Linked DNA regions of Homo sapiens: region 1 is linked to region 2. Evidence: fine-mapped expression QTL. A gene starts in region 2. The other region holds a variant in brackets. All regions are shown on one strand. Distances are from middle to middle.

Region 1 (2,907 bases), 65 kb after region 2:
GTTGCAGTGAGCCAAGATCACACTATTGCACTCCAGCCTGGGCGACTAGAATGAAACTCCATCTCAAAAAAAAAAAAAAGTTATAACCCACACAAATAAAAGCTGTTTGGGGTCCTTGATACTATTAAGAATGTAAAAGAGTCCTAAGACCAAAAAGTTCCAGAACAGTTGCCTATAGCAACATTTCCCGAGTCACTGTGACAGTCCCTAAAGGATCCCACAGATCCCCAAACATTTCCCCAGGCCCAGGCCCTGGATGACAGTCACAGCCATGAGCTGCCGAGAGCTCTTTGGGATCAAGACCTTTCCTTCAGGTTCGTACTATGATGTCAAATTGGATTTTTCCCAGAACTTCCAGAATTGCTACTACTGCCCAAAACTGAGGACAAAAGTGGCCAACTACCCCAGAGCCTAAGTTCGAGGTCACTGCCATTATAACCAGCCACTTACCCAAATAAGTTACTGAGAGGACCCAAGGCTGTCCAGAAAAGGATAGAGAAGAGAAAGGAAGCATCATCCTGTTTGGGGGGAAAATGAGAGAGGAAAGTTCTCAAGAGAGGCTACACCTTTCCCTCCCCATGAACTTTGTGGGTTTTTTTGTGTATTTGTTTGTTTGAGACCGAGTCTCACTCTGTCGCTCAGGCTGGAGTGCAGTGGTGCGATCTCAGCTCACTGCAACCTCCACCTCCTGGGTTCAGGTGATTCTCCTGCCTCAGCCTCCTGAGTAGCTGGGACTACAGGCACATGCCACTATGCCCGGCTAATTTTTAAATTTTTGTATTTTTAGTAGAGACGGGGTTTCACCATGTTGGCCAGGCTGGTCTTGAACTCCTGACCTCAAGTGATCCACCTGCCTCGGCCTCCCAAAGTGCTGGGATTATAGGTGTGAGCCACCGTGCCTGGCCTGAAGGCTATGTTTTTAAATGAATGAAAATGAGAGAAATATTAAAGACTCTAGCAAAATTGTCATTAAGTTTCCCTGTAGCCTTTATCCAACAGGAAAAAGGAAATTAACAATACATTTATTTTTAAAAATAAAAATAATAGACAGGCCGGGCGTGGTGGCTCACTTCTGTGAGCCACCTTTGGGAGGCCGAGGTGGGTGGATCACTTGAGGTCAGGAGTTCAAGACCAGCCTGGCCAATATGGGGAAACCCCGTCCCTACTGAAAATACGAAAATTAGCCGGGTGTAGTGGTGCGTGCCTGTAATCCCAGCTACTCCGGAGGCTGAGGCACGAGAATGGCTTGAACTGGCAAGGTGAAGGTTTCAGTGAGCTGAGATCGCACCACTGCACTCCAGCCTAGGAGACAGAGCTAGACTCTGTCTCGAAATAATAATAATAATAAAGACACAGTCTTGGGGCCAGCTGTGGTGGCTCATGCCTGTAATCCCAGCACTTTGTGAGGCCAAGGTGGGTGGATCATTTGAGGTCAGGAGTTCAAGACCAGCCTGGCCAACATGGTGAAACCCTGTCTCTACTGAAAATTCAAAAATTAGCCAGGCAGTAGTGGTGTGCACCTGTAATCCCAGCTAC[G/T]CAGGAGGCTGAGGCAGGAGAATCTCTTGAGCCTGGGAGGCAGAGGTTGCGGTGAGTGGAGATTGCGCCACTGCACTACAGTCTGGGCGACAGAGTGAGACCCTGTCTCGAAAACAATAAATAAATAAAAAAGACACAGTCTTGGATGCTGTGATTTTGGATCATAGTCTTGGAAAACAATAGATAGCAGGTAGAGAGCAGTCACTGCAGAACAAATGGAAACTGTCATGTTTTTGATCCCAAGGGATTGAGATTTCTCAATAAACTATTTCTGTTTAGAACAGGGAGTTGGAGCTGTGCCCAGGTGGATGTTATTGGGCACAGGCTGTATAGAGGTGGGTCTTAAATCAGTACCAGTAAAAGCCAGATGTAACTTCCAAAGATGGTGGCAACAATGTTTCCCAGCCCATATATTCCTCTAGAACTTTGATACCCCTTCCATTGGGAAGTGGAATTTGTGTAAGCTCCCCTTACATCTAGGCAGTTTGTGACTTGCTTGTAACCAAGACTATGTGGCAGAAGTAATGCTGCATGATTCCAAGGCTAGATCAGAAGAGATAAGGCCCCTTCCTTTCCTTCTTTCCTTCCTTCCTTCCTTCCTTCCCTCCTTCCCTCCCTCCTTCCCTCCTTTCTTTCTTTCTCTCTCTTTCTTTCTTTCCTTCCTTCTTTCTTTCTCTCTTTCTCTCTTTCTCTTTCTTTCTTTCATTTCGATGGAGTCTCACTCTGTCGCCCAGGCTGGAGTGCAGTGGCGTGATCTCGGCTCACTGCAACCTCCGCCTCCCAGGTTCAAGCGATTCTCCTGCCTCAGCCTCCTGAGTAGCTGGGACCGCAGGCCCGTGCTACCATGCCCAGCTAATTTTTGTATTTTTAGTAGAGACGGGATTTCACCATGTTTTCCAGGCTGGTCTTGGACTCCCGACCTCAGGTGATCCACCTGCCTCAAGCTCCCAAAGTGTTGGGATTACAGGCGTGAGCAACCGCACCCAGTCGCGGCTGCTACTTTCATAAAACACTTGTACTGGATGCCGAAGCTGCCATGTAAGTCCAACTGCCCAGAGGCTGTCATGATGTGAGGGAGCCCAAACCAGTTCGCGTGGAGAGACCACATTGAGAAGCCCTGAGACAACATGGAGTGGGGAGAGAGTAAGAGAAAGAGAGAGAGAGAGAGATCCATCCACCCCCAGCTGCTTCCCTGTTCCAGTTTCAGCTGCCAAGTGACTGCAACCATATGAAATTCCAAGTCAGAACTGCCCAGTTGGGTCCTTCCCAAAACTCTGACCACAGACACAGTGAAAAATAATAGGATGACTGTTGTTGTTTTGGGCCACCATATTTTGGAGTGATTTGTTACCAAGCAATAGTAACTAGAAA
Region 2 (2,907 bases):
GCCACAGGCCCCAGATTAAGAAATGTGGGGTAGAAAGTGCACCCTGCCTGTCTCCCTATCCCAGTGTTCTTCAGATTCCAGAGGATTAGACAGATGTCAGACCGTCGCTGCAACAATGTATGTGAACACGCACGGCAGGCTCCTTAGTCCTACAATTTCAGGGGTTCCTGGGCCCCATAAAGTCGGTCAGTGGCCCTCCATTGTAGACCCCCAGGAGTGGAGACAGTGCAGGAAGGGGAAAGGAGAGAATTAAGAAGGGGTGCCTGGAGTGAATTAGTAACCTGGCTGTCAGAGGGAGGAGGTCAGTGGATGGAAGAGGTTCCCGGAGATGAAATTGCTGGTGGGCAACTAACAGTAAATGGGTAGAGAACTTCCTAAGCAAAGGCGGAGGAATAAGGAGTTTTGCGTGATGTGGCTCAAGGGCAGGATGGGTCCCACTCACCCCAGACCTGTCCTCGGGATCGCTGGCACCTCCGCCCCCGGCCACCACGTCATCCTCAGACTCGTCGAAAGAAGAGGCAGAGGAGAAGCCGCCGCTGCCCCCCTCAACCCGGGAGGGGGGTCCCACTGGCTGGGCCTCAGGCTCAGGGGTCTCAGGGGTAATGATGAGGCGGGGCACAGGGCACAGGGGGCTACACTTCAGGTGAGAGTACAGGTGAGTCAGCAATTCTCCAGGCTCTGGTTCCTCTAATGGGCCATCCTCAGGCTCTCCCAAGAGGCAGTCTGTCCCAGGTGCTGTCTGGGAACCGTCAGTGCTAGGTTGTGTCCAGGAGCCATCAGTATCCTGTTGTATTTGGAAACCACCAGTGCCAGGCTGTTTCCTGGCTGCTTCAGTATCCTGTTTTTTCTGGGAGCCATCAGTATATGGCTCTGTCCAGGGACCTTCAATATCCTGTTGTGTCCTGGAGCCATCAGTATACAATTCTTTCCAGGAGCCATCAGCACTTGGCTCTTTTGAGGGACAGGCTCCTTCTGGGTGAGTCTGGAGGCTGGAACTGTTCTGGTGGGTCCAGAGGTTATCAGCCCAGGACTTGACCCTCTCTGGCTGAGTCTGTGACCCATGCGTTTCCAGCTCTGTCCAGGGCCCATGAACCCCTGGCTGTGTCCAGGGGCTGGCCTCCTCGGGCTGAAACTGGAGGTCGGACCTGTGCGGATCAGTCCAAAGGCCATCTGTCCCGGTCTCCGTCCAAAGACAAGTCGTCTCCAGCTCTGACCAGCTCCATTCTAGATGCGTCCGGAGGCTGGACCTGTCTGGCTCCGTCTTTTGCTTGGGCCTCTCGGTCTCTACTCCAAGGCCAGCTGCCGCGGGCTCAGTCTGTCCGTCTGTCCAGAATTCTGCCTGCGGACTCTCTGTCCCCGGCGCAGGCCCGAGGCCGGCCCTCTCAGGCTCGCTGTGGAGGCTGGACCCCTCTGTCCGGGCCCAGGGCCCGCCCCCCTCCGGCCGCCCCGCCGGGGCCCCTGCGCCGGGCCCAGGTCGCTGCTGTCCCGGCTGCCGCCGCCGCCCTCCTCGCGGCGCCTCCAGTCCCATGCGGGCCGCCGCGGGCAGCGCCCCGGCCTCCGCCTCGTTCAGGCTCCCACGGCACGGGCAGCGCCTCATGCCCGCTCCTTCGGTTCGGGCTTCGGCCGACCCGGCCCCTCCTATCCCTTTAAATCCCGCGAGGGGTGTGGCTGGGGAGCCCCGACTCCCGGGTTCCGGCCCGCGGAGCTCCAGCCCGCCCCGCCGCGCAAGGGTTAACCGATACTCCCCTCAAAGGGGAAAGCCCCGAAGCCCCGCCCCACCGGACGTGACGGAACGGAACGAGACGGAGCCTTGTCCGACTCCGCCTCCCAAGGGGAGGGGGTTTGCCTCTGAGCATCCGAAGCGCGGCCAGGTATGCATCTAGGGCACCGGGGTCCTGGTGGCGCGCCAGTGGGCCCCCTCCCTCCACCCCTGTGACTAAACCACCCTCCCTACACGGTTGAATGACAAGTTCAACCTTCCCTAAAACCCCCGGTGACGAGTCCAGCCGCGCGCCCATTCTTCACGCAGGGGCGGGACGGACTTTCAAAGACTTGGAGTTCCCACGGGTGTGGGTTCGAGACCTTCCTCTGCCAGTTCCCAGCTCCGCTACCCTGAGCAAATGACTTACGCTCCATTGGATTTTCCGTAAGAAATCTCTGTCATGTATAGAGTACTTGTTCTGTATCAGACCCTGACACGATTTCAGTTCATTCTCCAAGGCTGAACAATAGGGATGCCAGGGCTCCATTTTACACGTGAGAACAGAGGCTCAGAGATCTGCCGGCCTCTACCCTTTGCTTGCAGCTACGGGGCTATCTGACATGATCTCATGTATGTGAAGCATGTGGCCCCGGGCCTGGCACTGTCAGTTGTAGCCCAGTAGGATTATTTATTGTCCTAGGTGATTTTGATATATTTTGCCCCCAAGGCTGAGCTGCCACCCAGCTCCTGAGTCAGCCGTTCACCTCTGAAGGGGGAGAGGAGGTGGTTTGTCTTGAAATTGAGTCAACTGGGGGAGACATTGGGCACAGGTCCAAGGCTCTAAAATGAGTCACCTTTTCACAGACCAATGAGAGAAATCGAAGGCAGGAGCCCACCTAGTACCTCATACAGGTTGGGAAGGAGAAGTCCAGAGAGGGATGAGGGCTTTTCTGAGGTCACACAGTACGGGAATAGAGACAAAGAGGCCTGATTCCCGACAAGAGGGGTTGGGGCAGCGGGGTTCTGTGGGGGAAGCATCGGCATCCCTCCCTCTCCCAGTGGTGGGAAAGATGCCCCAACCAGATGCCTCTATTCCAGACTGTGAGAAGTGGGTGAGTCAGCCTGTTGTGGGGAGAGCAGGCTTTCCAACGCGCGCGCGCACACACACACACACACACACACACAGAGAAAGAAAGATAGGATGG

Evidence for each region. PIP is the estimated chance that this variant, and not a neighbour inherited with it, causes the effect.
Region 1: its variant is the best candidate, but not a certain one, in a credible set for the expression of ITPKC in whole blood (INTERVAL, PIP 0.58).

The regions. Positions count from the first base shown.
Region 1 is chr19:40,650,816-40,653,722 of GRCh38, reverse strand. No RefSeq gene overlaps it. Among named protein-coding and RNA genes, the nearest start is that of NUMBL, 38 kb to the left of the region's middle. RefSeq lists an enhancer at 1,436-1,485. The variant G/T (reference allele first, on the strand shown) is at 1,537.
Region 2 is chr19:40,715,826-40,718,732 of GRCh38, reverse strand. ITPKC (inositol-trisphosphate 3-kinase C) reads right to left here and starts at 1,621. Exons shown (of 7, transcript NM_025194.3): 1 at 443-1,621. The coding sequence starts at 1,597. COQ8B (coenzyme Q8B) reads left to right here and starts at 1,847. Exons shown (of 15, transcript NM_024876.4): 1 at 1,847-2,146. RefSeq lists a silencer at 1,371-1,730 and an enhancer at 2,301-2,380.